3 linked regions of the Homo sapiens genome follow. The protein of the gene in region 3 interacts with the protein of the main gene of each other region in a pairwise test. Each region holds a gene or a part of one and is shown on either strand. Other genes may lie near its edges.

What was found. Proteins that work in one complex are often made in the same cells at the same time.
Region 1: the proteins of MEX3B (region 3) and RAP1GAP interact in a two-hybrid assay, tested with the Homo sapiens proteins (one large-scale study listed by BioGRID and IntAct).
Region 2: the proteins of MEX3B (region 3) and NUDT3 interact in a two-hybrid assay, tested with the Homo sapiens proteins (one large-scale study listed by BioGRID and IntAct).

The regions. Positions count from the first base shown.
Region 1 is NC_000001.11:21,666,558-21,670,572, forward strand, and holds the start of RAP1GAP (rap1 GTPase-activating protein 1), read right to left. Parts: upstream 2,801-4,015; 5' UTR 2,697-2,800; intron 2,037-2,696; exon of another isoform or gene 1,954-2,036; intron 1,267-1,953; exon of another isoform or gene 1,041-1,266; intron 1-1,040. UniProt on the Homo sapiens protein: GTPase activator for the nuclear Ras-related regulatory protein RAP-1A (KREV-1), converting it to the putatively inactive GDP-bound state.
Region 2 is NC_000006.12:34,288,170-34,291,669, forward strand, and holds part of NUDT3 (diphosphoinositol polyphosphate phosphohydrolase 1), read right to left. Parts: intron 763-3,500; coding exon 584-762; 3' UTR 1-583. Other genes in the region: RPS10-NUDT3 protein, read right to left, coding at 584-762. UniProt on the Homo sapiens protein: Cleaves a beta-phosphate from the diphosphate groups in PP-InsP5 (diphosphoinositol pentakisphosphate) and [PP]2-InsP4 (bisdiphosphoinositol tetrakisphosphate), suggesting that it may play a role in signal transduction.
Region 3 is NC_000015.10:82,043,219-82,047,478, forward strand, and holds the start of MEX3B (RNA-binding protein MEX3B), read right to left. Parts: upstream 2,801-4,260; 5' UTR 2,488-2,800; coding exon 2,232-2,487; intron 1,396-2,231; coding exon 1-1,395.

The sequences.
Region 1 (4,015 bases), on a different chromosome or scaffold from region 3:
CCCAGGATTCTTGGGGCCAGTCAAGCTGGGTCCACATGAATCAGAAAAGAGGGAGGAAGGGGAGGCTTTGCTGGGGACGGTCGGGGGCCTCCACTCCCCTCCCCGGGTGATGAAGCATTAACATCCCACACGCAGGAAGCTGATGTAATTCATGCGTGTGTGCACCCATGATGGCCTGGGTGTGGGTGGGTGCATGTGCGTGTCTGCCAGGTTCATTTTTAAGGGCGTAGGGCATCCTCGTGTTCTTCCTGCATGCGCGTGTACCATGTGTGCACCCTGGAGGAGATAATGGAGGCAGACGACAGAAGACGAGGGCTTCTGAAAAGGCTCTTCTCCTTGCTGACAACCTCCGTCTCTCTGTGTGTACACACGTGCCAGCATCTGGATGGTGTGACTCTCAGTGCTTGTGTGTCAGGCAGAGTCGGGGGCAGGGGTCTTGGCCTGGGTGTGCCCGTGTGTTCCTGTGTCTGGGTCTCAGGGTATCTGTCAGTCTAACTGTATTTGCGTTTGTGTCTGGCCGTGCTCAGGTCTCGGTTGTTTGCACAGCACATGCGGCTGCTCAGCAGCCTCTGACAGCCAGGACAAAGGCCTCCGTAGACAGATGGCAGCATGGAGGACAGATCTGCCCGAGGAGTCCTCAAAGGGCCTCTTGGCCCCAGAATTTGACAGCAGGGCAGGGGCAGGGCCAGGTGAGAGGGAGGTGGAGGCCCTGCTGTGGGAGCCTGAGGCCTAAGTGGCAGAGACCTCTCTCCCTGCTGCCCTCCAAGAGGCCAAAGGAAGAATCCTTCTTGTCTCCTAAGGGTGGAAGGTAGTTAGAGCCAGGAGAGGGGCCTCCTGAGACCCCTGCCAGGCAGGCACCTTGGGAAGAAGAGAAGAGGAGAGGGCTTTGCCCAAGCAAGCTGGGAAGGTCCCAGGGTGAAAGCACCATTATGGTGCTCCACGGGACAACCCTCCCTCCATGGGAAGGGGTGGCAAGGCAAGCCTAGGACTCTGGACCCTCTCCTCAACCTGACCCAGCTTCCAGCCACAGGCACCCTCACCTCCTGGCAGCAAAGGGGAGCAGGTCCACATGGACCACTCCACCACGGCGTTCACCCTTCCTCCTCTCCACCGCTGTGGAGATCTTCTCCCATCAAGAGTCAGAGTACCACGATTCTAGACCTTGCTGAAGGTGACTAGGTGACCTCAGGCAGTTCATTTAGCCTCTCCGAGCCTCAGTTTCCTCACCTGTGCAATGGAGGCTTCAGCGCCTGCCCTGAAATATTGCTGTGAAGGGGGAAATTGCTCGTGCCACCTGAGGATTAATCATTACCCTGGAACCCTTCCCAAGGCCATCAAGGAACACGCACCCCTTACCAGACCTTCCAGCTGCTGGGGGCTCTCAGAGTGAGGCTGAGGTCATGGAGAAGGGAATGGGGGGCCCCCATGGCCAGCTGGACCTGATCACTGCCTCCCCACTCAGCCACAGCCCTCAGGGCCCTGTGCCAGTCCAGAAGCCCATTCAGGGACACCTTTGGCCAATGTTCTGTTTCATCTGCGAGGCAACCTTCCCCAGTGCCCCAACCATAGCGTTTTCCCCCAAACACCCTCAGGAAGGAGGGACCACTACCTGTGCAGGGGGGGCCAGGAGCCTCCTGAGAGCCTCATATGGGGAGGAAGTGGTACCATCTCACCCCCATTGCCTTTCTCTCCTACTTCCACCTGGCCAGCTTCCCTCAGTGCCCCTCCTGCCTCAGTGCCCCTTCCCTCAGTGTCCTTCCTGCCTGCCGCCCCAGGGGCCTGACCTCTGACTTGGCAGGGAGGGGAATGGAGCCCGGGGACAGAGGCCAATGAGCCCTGAGAACAGTGGATGTTCTTCCTGACCCCACCACCGGGCCTGTGCTATGACCCCAACAAGGACTCCGAGGGCATGCACAGGCTGGGGTCTGTTATGGTAGGGAGGGGGCCGCTCACCTCCGGAGACTGTGTGTGTGTGCAGGTGTGCGTACACAAGGTTTCTTCCCCAAGCCCAGGCGCCCCGCAGCTGGCACCAAACCCTGCAGGGCACGGAAACCGCCCCGTGAATTCCCACCGAGTCCTCAGATCCTGCCGAGCCAGGGGAGGCGACGAGGGGGCGCCCAACTTCGTGACGCGTGTGCCCCGCTCTGCCGCGGGGGTCAGGGACAGGGGAATGCGTCCTGTCTCTGGGGATGCAAGGACATCACCGCCCTCCCCGCTCAGGGTCCTTGATCTGAGGCCCCCACTTCCCTCCTCTGAGGACAGGAGCGCCACCCTCTGGGGGGCGCTAGGGCTTGGGCCCCTCCCCAGGGATGGAGGAAACGCGCCCACTTCCCACAGTCCCTCCTCTAAACCCCAGGCGCCCCCACCTCGAGGTGGGCGGAAAACTGGACTCCCCACCCACCCAGGGGGGTGGGACCAAAGCCCCCTGGCCGCGGCCTGGACCAAGTCCAACAGGCTGGGGGTTCAGCCGGCTCAGTCCAGGCCTCCCCCCACTTCTCCAGCTGCTGTCAAGACCGGGCTGCGCGAGCCCAGCTGCGCCCACCCCTCGCCCCTGGAGACCCGGGTCCCCCACGCGTTCGCCCCCACCCTCCGTCCCCGCCCGCCCGCGCGGGGTCTTCGCTGCGAGCCGACGGGAGTCTGGACACCTCTGTCCCCTTCCCCTTTCCAGGGCCGCAGCCCTGGCGGGGCGCACTCACCCAAGGGCCTGGGCCGGGGGCGTCCTGGGCTCGGCACTCTGGTGCCCGCGGCCGCCGCTGCAGCTCTGCTCAGATGCGGCCGGCGCTCGCCGCCGCCGCAGTTCGGGGAGGGGGACGTCACATGACCGCGGAGCGCTCCTTCCCCGGCGCCGCTCCCCACTCACTGCGGAGCCCAAGCCGCGGGCGCGGGAGCGGCGGGGAGGCCCCCGCCCTGCCGCCCCGCCCCGCCGCAGGTCCTGGAGGAGGGTTCTCGGTGCCCCCATTTTACAGGTGGGGAAACTGAGGACCAGAGAGGGGCAGGGACTGGCTCAAGGTTACACAGCTAGACAGTGGCAGAACCTGGGCGACAGCCCAGCTGTCCAGGCAACAGCTCATGCTCCAAGGGGACTGGGACAACTTCTGGATCAAGTGGAGACGTCGGGATAGGTGGGGCCCACGGCCCCCATGGGCTCCGCTTGTCTGCAGGCGCGGGAGGAAGGCGCACAGGCTTCGCTGGGCGAGAAAGCTGCTGTGCCCTGGCTGACGCCCTCCTCACCCGGGCGCTCGGCGCGCTTCCTGGCAGAGGCCACGCGGTTGACCCTCGCCAGCCCATTCGCGGCTCTTGGACTTTGTCTCTGGACTGGGCAGCTCGCCCCCGCCCCAGCCTAACCCGGGCCCAGGGCGGGTGTGGGGAGGGGAGCCACAGGCTACGGAGAAGTGGAAGGGAGGCACCCGGAAGAGAGTGGGATCAGAACAAGAGTGAAAACCCAGGCAGGGAGGGGGCGGCAGAGATCACCTCGGCCTGACTTCCAAGGCCCAGGGAGAGTTAGAGACTTGCCCAAGGTCCACAGCAAGTGAGCGGCCTGCCCACTCGAGTCCCTTCTTTGATGGTCAACAGAGCCTGAGGCTCCTGTGCCCCACTCCCCACCAAGGGGGAGCCCTCACCCACACCTCTTTCTGTTCTCCACTGAGCTCCCTCCCCGGGGAACAGCCCACATGAAGCAAAGAAACACGCAGTGGGTCGGCAAGGCCAGAACTGGGGACAACGGGTGAGGGGTATGGTTGGTGGCTCCAAGGTCATGAACTCGTCACAGAACACTCGTGTTCCAGGGGGATCTCTGAAATCTCTGGATCTCACCCCAATGTTCTAAGAACTGGGAAAACAGGCTGCAAAAGGTACAAAGACAGACCTCTTTCTCAACCATTTCGAATTGGTGGGTCAAGCCGACAGGGCCCTCCAAGGTCAACAAGTCCAATAGGCCCACTTGACAGATAATATTTAGGGAGGGGAAAGTCCAAGACATGTACTCAATATATTTCTTGAGCATCTACTGTGTGCT
Region 2 (3,500 bases), on a different chromosome or scaffold from region 3:
AAATGCCCAAATTAAAAGAGAAAAAAACCTTGAAAAATTAAACAAATTTCTCTTTCTAGAAGTCATTTATTTACATATTATATGTCCGATATATAATGTGTAGATAAATGTATACTGCAGTGAAAGTGACCACTCTACTGAACTGTACAGCACATTATAGGACAAATTATTGGAAGTTTTCATCTCATACTGGTATCTTTTAATAAAAAAAAAAAATTAAAAATCAAAGAAAACGTCTGGCCAGGGCCAGGATAAGACAAACAGGAACACTTCAGAATCCAAGGCAGGGGAAGGCTGTTGGCCTCTCTTCAGAGGACTGCAGGGGTGGGAAGAGGGAGGGACAGATCATGCACAAAAGTACTTACAAATTACACACCCAACCCCCACCCTCAATAAAAACAGAAGAAAAAGCCCCATCACTTAACACCAAACAGCAACATTATCAATACACCCTTTCTTTGCTGCCCACCATGCCTTATTTGAAAGAGGAGGCCTGTGAGAAGTGGAAAGAGCCAGGGTGAGAGGGAAGATTTGCACTTCAGTCTAGTTTCCAATTTCCATTTCTCTTACAGGAAGTCTTCAGTCATCTGATGCCTGACATCGAGCTCTGAGCAGAAACCGAGTATGTGGTGGCCACGACTGGGGTGCCATTGTTGGCTGAGTAGCCTTGCCTCAATGTTTCAAAATATGATGCCTGCACGGGTTTGTGATACTGCAGCACTTTTATGGCGTCTTCTATTTTAAACCATTCCCTCTTCCTTCCTGTGGAGGCAGAGAGAAAAGAAACTAGTACAAGAGTAATAAGGTTTCTGAGCCTAGAACTTTTGAGAAAATATAGAAAACATTAAAGCAATGTTTCTTAACACTTTTTTTCCTTACAAAAATAACTCAAGCACACTTCATATGCTTCAAATATTATATCAATGTCTAATGCAGAAAGGTGAGAAACCTGAAAACCAAAGAGCTAAGAGTAATTGTGTAAAACCTGCCCTCCAGAGAGAACTACGGCTAGTGTTTTCCTCCTGCCCTCCTGCGTCTCTGAGCTTTCCTTGCTTGCACATACATAGGGATCAAAGCCCAGCAGCATCCCCATCTCCTGTAAAAACTGACATGAGGGCCGGATGAGGTGGCTCACGCCTACAATCCCAGCACTTTAGGAGGCTAAGGTGGGCGGATCGCTTGAGCCCAGGAGTTTGAGACTGGCCTGAGCAACATGGCAAAACTCTGTCTCTACAAAAAATACAAAAATTAGCTGGGCATGGTAGCATGTGCCTGTACTCCCAGCTACCCAGGAGGCTGAGGTGGGAGGATCACCTGAGCCCGGAAGGTCGCGGCTGCAGTGAGCTGTCATCGCGCCACTGCACTCCAGCAGGGTGACAGAGTGAGACCCTGTCCCAAGGGGGGAAAAATCAACACGAGCATCAGCTTCCAGAATTACTAGGATGGCTGGTTTGTAATCAGTAATTCATTTAAAAGTTTTCTTATAAGAGTGAATTTATCTACATAATAGAAAATATTTCTTAAAAGAAGTAAAAATAATCTCAATACAATCACACTTTTATTTTTCAGTCTATTTTCTTACTCTTTTCTAGTCCATGCTTTAAAATCCTTTATATTTTTTATCTTATAAAAGTAATAACTACCCATAATCTTATAAACCAGAAAAAACCACTCTCAATACCCTAGCACAACTGCCCTTTTTTCATATACTTGAAAAAGAAACAATCTTGAGACAACCAAAATTGGATCATGCTTTCAGGTACTCTGAATCCTGACCAGCTCTGCTAGAGTGTTATGGTCAGGAACAAGGACTCTGAAGCCAAAGTGCTGGGCTCCAATCACATAAATGGCTCCAATGAGCTGTGCAGCCTCAGGTAGCTGTGTTCCTGCTCCATTTTCCTCATCTATAAAACAGACAATAAATAGGGCCTATCTCACAAGTCTGTTATGACTATTAGTATGGAAAGCACCTGAAGAGTAACTGGCTGCTAAAAGAATGTGCTGCTGAATTTGCTTTTTAATTTTTGTTACTGGTTTTTACTTCATGTTATTTTTTCTTTTCTTTTTCTTTCTCTCTTTTTTTTTTTTCCAGAGATAGGATCTCACAGGCTGGATTGCAGTGGTATGATCATAGTTCACTGCAAACTCAAGCTCCCGAACACGAGGGATCTTCCTGCCCCAGCCTTCCAAGTAGCTAGGACTACAAGCACGTGCCACACCTGCTGCTGCTTCTTTTTTTTTTTTTTTTTTTTTTGGTATAAATGAGGTCTCAAATTCCTGGCCTCAAGTGATCCTCCTGCCTTAGCCTCCCAAAGTACTTGGAATTACAGGCATGAGCCACCACACCTGTCCTATGTCACACTATTTCTTAAGCAATCTATATTATGAAAAAAATATGAGACATTGCCATTGCTAGAAAGGCTAAGGCAGGAGGACTGCTTGAACCCAGGAGGTTGAGGCTGCAGTGAGCTGTGATCATGCCACTGTACTCCAGTCTGGACAACAGAGTGAGACTGTCTTTTTTTTTAAGACATTTATGGCTGCATTATGTCATAGTATCTAGTATGGATGTATTATCATTCACTTAAGCATTTCCATATCACTGGACATCAATTGTCTGTGATTATTATTATTATTATTATTGAGACAGAGTCTCAGTCTGTCACCCAGGCTGGAGTACAGCGATGTGATCCCGGCTCACTGCAACCTCTGCCTCCCAGGCTCAAGCAATTCTCATGGCTCAGCCTCTCAAGTAGCTGGGATTACAGGCGCCCACAACCACACCCAGCTAATTTTTGTTTATTTATTGAGACGGAGGCTCACTCCGTCATGCAGGCTGGAGTGCAGTGGCGTTATCTTAGCTCACTGCAATCTCCGCCTCCCGGGTTCAAGCAATTCTCCTGCCTCAGCCCCCAAGTAGCTGGGACTACAGGTGCACACCACCACGCCCAGCTAATTTTTGTATTTTTAGTAGAGATGGGGTTTCAGCATGTTGGACAGGCTGGTCTCGAACTCCTGACCTCAAGTGATTCACCCGCCTTGGCCTCCCAAAGTGCTGGGATTACAAACGTGATCCACCATGCCCAGTGATTTTAATTATTATAAATAATGCTATTTTTTTAAAACGTTCCCCGTTTTTTCTTTCTTTTTAACCTTCTAGGGAAAGATATCTAGCACAAGAACTACAAAAATAGAGCTTCTGAACTTTCAAGGGCTCCTGATTTATACTGCAAAAGTGCTTTACAGAAAGGCGACACTGATCCCCAGTCCTGCTTGTGTATGTCAGGATGTCAGTCTCACCACATTCCTGCCAATATTAGCTTTTCTTTAACATTGACAAAAATTTTTTTTTTTGAAACAGTCTTATCTGTTGCCCAGGCTGGAGTGCATTGGTGTATTCTTGGCTCACTGCAACCTCCACCTCCTAGGTTCAAGTTATTCTCCTGCCTCAGCTTCCTGAGTAGCTGAAATTACAGGTGTGTGCCACCATGCCTGGCTAA
Region 3 (4,260 bases):
CGCTCTTCTCACAGATGCGATTGGCGCACTCCATGCAGAAGAGGTTGTGGCCACAGGGCACCAGCGCGGCAATCACTTCGCTCTCGAAGCACACGGAGCAGTCGCGGCTGCCTTTACGCCGAAGCCCGGAGGAAGAGGATGAAGAGCTGGAGGAGGAGCTGGACGAAGAGGAGGAGCCCGACGTGTCCGACGGCTGCAAGCCAGGCAGCTGTGCCCCCAGCCCGTTGGCATAAGCGGCGTAGGCCAGGCCTCCTCCACCCGGGTCGCTGCGCACCCGGCGAGCCAGGTGGTGCTCTCCCGCCCCCGGGGCCATGTGCAAGGGTGGAGACAGGCGCGGGCAGCTGGTGCCAGGGTGCAGCCGGCGGTGCACCAATAGCCCCAGGTTGGCGTTGGAGGGCGCACTGGCGCCACCCCCGGGGAAGACCACGGAGGAGGAAGAAGCAGACGAAGATGCAGAAGAAGAGCAGGAAGAAGATACCGGAGCTGCAGGTCCGCCTCCCGGGGACCGCTCGAACTGGGCCCAGATAAGTGGTGCCCCAGGTGGGGGAGCGGGAGCCGGGTCAAAAGTGGGCTGCAGCTCGGGGCAGCCGTCGGGGGATGGCACTGAGGCTTCTCCCCCCGCTGTGTAGGTGTACCCATTGCCGTTATTGTTATTGTTTCCGTTGTGCGCAAAGCTCAGGGCGGGGCTAGGGGGGCTGTAGTCCGCCAGGCGCTGGGTAGCCGCTGCGCTGCTGCTGGTCCCGCCGCCGAAATAAGAGTCTGTGGAAGCACTGCCAAGCGAGCTGGAGCTGTCGTTGCGGTAGCTAGAGAAAGGCTTGCGGCCGGGGGTGGGCGTGATGCTGGGGGTGGGCTTGCTCCAGAGGCTGCCTGGGCCGGACCCGCCGGACCCATGATGCAGATCGAAGCCCACATCGGTGCCGTTGGCGTGGAAGTCGTTCTCGTCTGTGAGCTCAATGATGCCGCCGGTACGCAGAGCAATGTGCGCCTCAATCTCCTCTCGAGCGCGATCCACGTTCTCTGGCATGCCGGTCACCTCGAACACCGGCTCCTTATCCCGGCTGGGCGTCACGATGTACGTGTGCGTCTGCTGCTGGATGCGCTTGATTGTGGCGCCTTTGGGCCCCACCACGAGCCCCACCACGCGGTAGGGTACCCGCACTTGGATGGTGGTCTGCCCGGGCAGGTTGGGCGGCCCAGGCACCGCGCCGTTGAGTGCCGTGTTCTTATTCCGGGAGGCGCGGATCATGGAGAAGTGCTCGGCAGCAGAGATGATCTCCCTCCGAGCCATGGCCACATCCTCCTTCCTGCCCGTCACAACAAAGACAGGCTCCTCCCCGCGAACTGGGGTCTTGATGTAAGTATTGGTCTTCGCCCGCAGCGCTTTGATTTTACAACCTACGAACCAGGGTGCGGAGGAGGGAGTGGGAGAGAGAGACAGACACGCCCATTATCCTGGGGTAACCGCGGGGACCGGGGACAGCCCGCGTCCAGGACAGCGAGACGGCAGGACAAGAGATGGGCGGAAAGGGGGCGTCTCCCTCACTGACCTCGGGCCGCGCCACGGGCTGGGCAGCGGATCCCACCCGCGAGGCGCTCGAGGAACAGCCCATTGGCTGCCTGGCCCTCCCCCAGTGACTGCAGTCGTCCCGAACCAAACCCGAGAATCCCAGAAAAGTCATCTGGGGAGATGCCGCTGGGATCCAGCTGGGCGCGCCGTCAGCTCTGAAGACACGGGGAAGGGGCTCGGGGAAGGCAGCTGAAGTCGCGATGCCTCAGCGCTGGTCGACTGGGGGTAGGGGGTGGGGTGTGAGTCCCGGGACCCATTGTTCCTCCTCTGGGCTCCATTCCGCTTTGCAGAAATCCAGAATCCTCCTCCCATCCTATGCTCACTCCTCCTCCTTCCTCCTCCCAAAGGACTGATCAAAGGCCCCCTCCCCCAAGCATCTTACATTTAAATTGTCTTTCTGGAGGTGGGCTGGTTGGGGGGCGTTAGGGGAGAAGGCAGTGATTTTAGCAGAAGAAAGTGCATCCCGCCAGGGCAGCGGCGCGGCTCCGGGAGACAGCCTGCCTGCACTTTCTTTGTCTGGGGCGCCGGCCCATCGCGCGGCTCTTCCTCTCTCCCCAAGGCACCCCACGCCGCGGATCCCGATACTGAACACGCCTTCCCCTCGAGGCAGTGGCCTGAGACCCTACACCACCCCCACCCACCTCCCCATCCCTCCTCGACCTACCTTGCCGCCCCACGATCTCGGCGACATGCTCAGAACTGGGTACTGGCACGCACTCGGTCATGTTCACGCTCTTCTTGCGCGGCTCGCTGTCGTACAGAGAGGCGCCCTCGTCACTGTCCAGCCCCAGCAGGGAGAGCTGGTCGAGCGCGAGCTGCAGGGCTCTTTGGTCATCCAGGGTCTCTCCCCCTCCGCTGCTGCCGCCGCCGCCGCCGCCGCTGCCGTTGCGCTCCAGGTCTGCGAACAGCGAGCTGGGCATCGCTCGGCCGTGCGCGCCGCGCCCCCGCCGGCCCTCGGCTCGGCGGCGAGAAGCTGCGGCCACAAAGGCAGCCGGGAAGCGGGTGGTCAGGGGCGGGGAGGCCGGTCGCCTGCTGAGGGCTCCGTTGCTTCTTCCTCGGTGCTGGGAGGAGTGGGTCGCTCCGTGCGGTCCGCACCGGGCAGTGGCTGCAGGAGCCCCCACCTGGGTCCCCACCCCAGACCTGCTGGCGGGTGGGGTGGGGGCAGAGCTCTAGCGGTGGCCGCGCGTGCCCCCCGAGTGCCCGGCTGGCTGGCCGCAATGCCGAGCGAAAAGCGAGCAGGCGAGCGACAGAAGCGTTTCTTTAAGGAGCCCCTCCCCGGCTCCTCCACTCCCTCCCTCCCGCCCGCCCGCCCGCCCTCACTCAGCGCTTTTTCCTCCTCTCCTCCCCGCCTCTTGACTGAGCCTCTGCAGCCAGACGACTCCGGAGGGGGACGAGGGAGGCGCAACGTCACAGGCGGGAGCTGACACCACAATGCTACTGACACTATCGCTGGGGGAGGCGATTGGCGCGCGCCAGGCCGGGGGCGGGAGGAGGCCGCGGGTTGAGCGAGCGGAGAGAGAGCGCCACCCCCCACCCCCGCGCTCGCCGCAGCCCGCCCCGTCCTCCTCCCGGCCGCGCCCCTCCCCCGCCGCCGCTAACGCCTCTCTTTGTTGTCTAATGCGGGACTGGCAGGCTCGGGACACTTGGATGTACCTATCAGCCGAGGACAATCATTGTCCCTAAGTCTCCTCCCTCGCCTGACTGAGAAAAGAAAACGCGCCCAACTCTGATGCCTGGAGCCGGGCTCTAAAAGAGCGGTCCTCAGGAAGTCCCGTTAGTGGCTCCAAATAAACCATCCGTGGAGCCAAAGCTTCCTCTGTGAGAAGAGTCTGTAGTCCGCCCAAAAGGGCGACCCGAGCCCTCCGACACGGAAAACGGGACTCCAGGTCTTGGGGCGCACGGGCAGAGTGACTCCCGGCGCGGGTTGTCCACCTGCGCGGGAGCGCACGAGACACAAAAGCACACGCCCGCCCACACTGGCAACCGCGCGCGCGCGCGCCCGCGCCTGCATTTCTGTCTCCTTGGGCAGCACTTCGCCCAACTGGCCCTGAAACTGAGGATGGGAAAGCTAAAAGCTGGCTGCCGCGCGAGCTCGGCCCGCCCGGCCGCTGGCGACCTCTGGAATGCATGGCACCAGTGTCCAGCACACGCCCGGCGCCCGGGCCGAGACCCTGCGGGTTCTGACACGCGCACGAGCGCCGCGCCGCCACCGCGGGGACGCAGGCCACAGCGCCAGCGGGCGGCGCGGGCGTGCGCGCCCGCTGTTCCCATCCCTCCCCTCCGTGCCCCGCGGCCGAGCATGCGCAGTGCGCGCGAGGAGCGGGCGGGCCCTTTAAGGCGGGCGCTGCGGAGCGCGCGCCGGCCCCGCCCGCGGCCCCGCCCCGACGGGAGGTGAGCGCTCCCTGCCCGGCCGCTCTTTGTGCGCTTCTCGGGGTGGGGGTGGCGGCAGAGGGAGGTTGCGACGGCACTTGCCGGCGAGGACGGCGAGCTGCGCCCCCTCCCGGATCTCCCAGGGACCGTCTCCGAGTGCGAGAGAGAAGGAAGGAGGATTTGAGGGGCGGGCCGGGGCGGTGCGCGCTGGTCCTCTCCGCGCGCATCCCCCTCCGCCGCCCACTAGGGCGGACGCCCCTTCGGGCCCCGCGCGCTCTGCTGTCCTTTGTTCCGGGAGCCGCCGGGCTCGCCGCGCCCTTTGC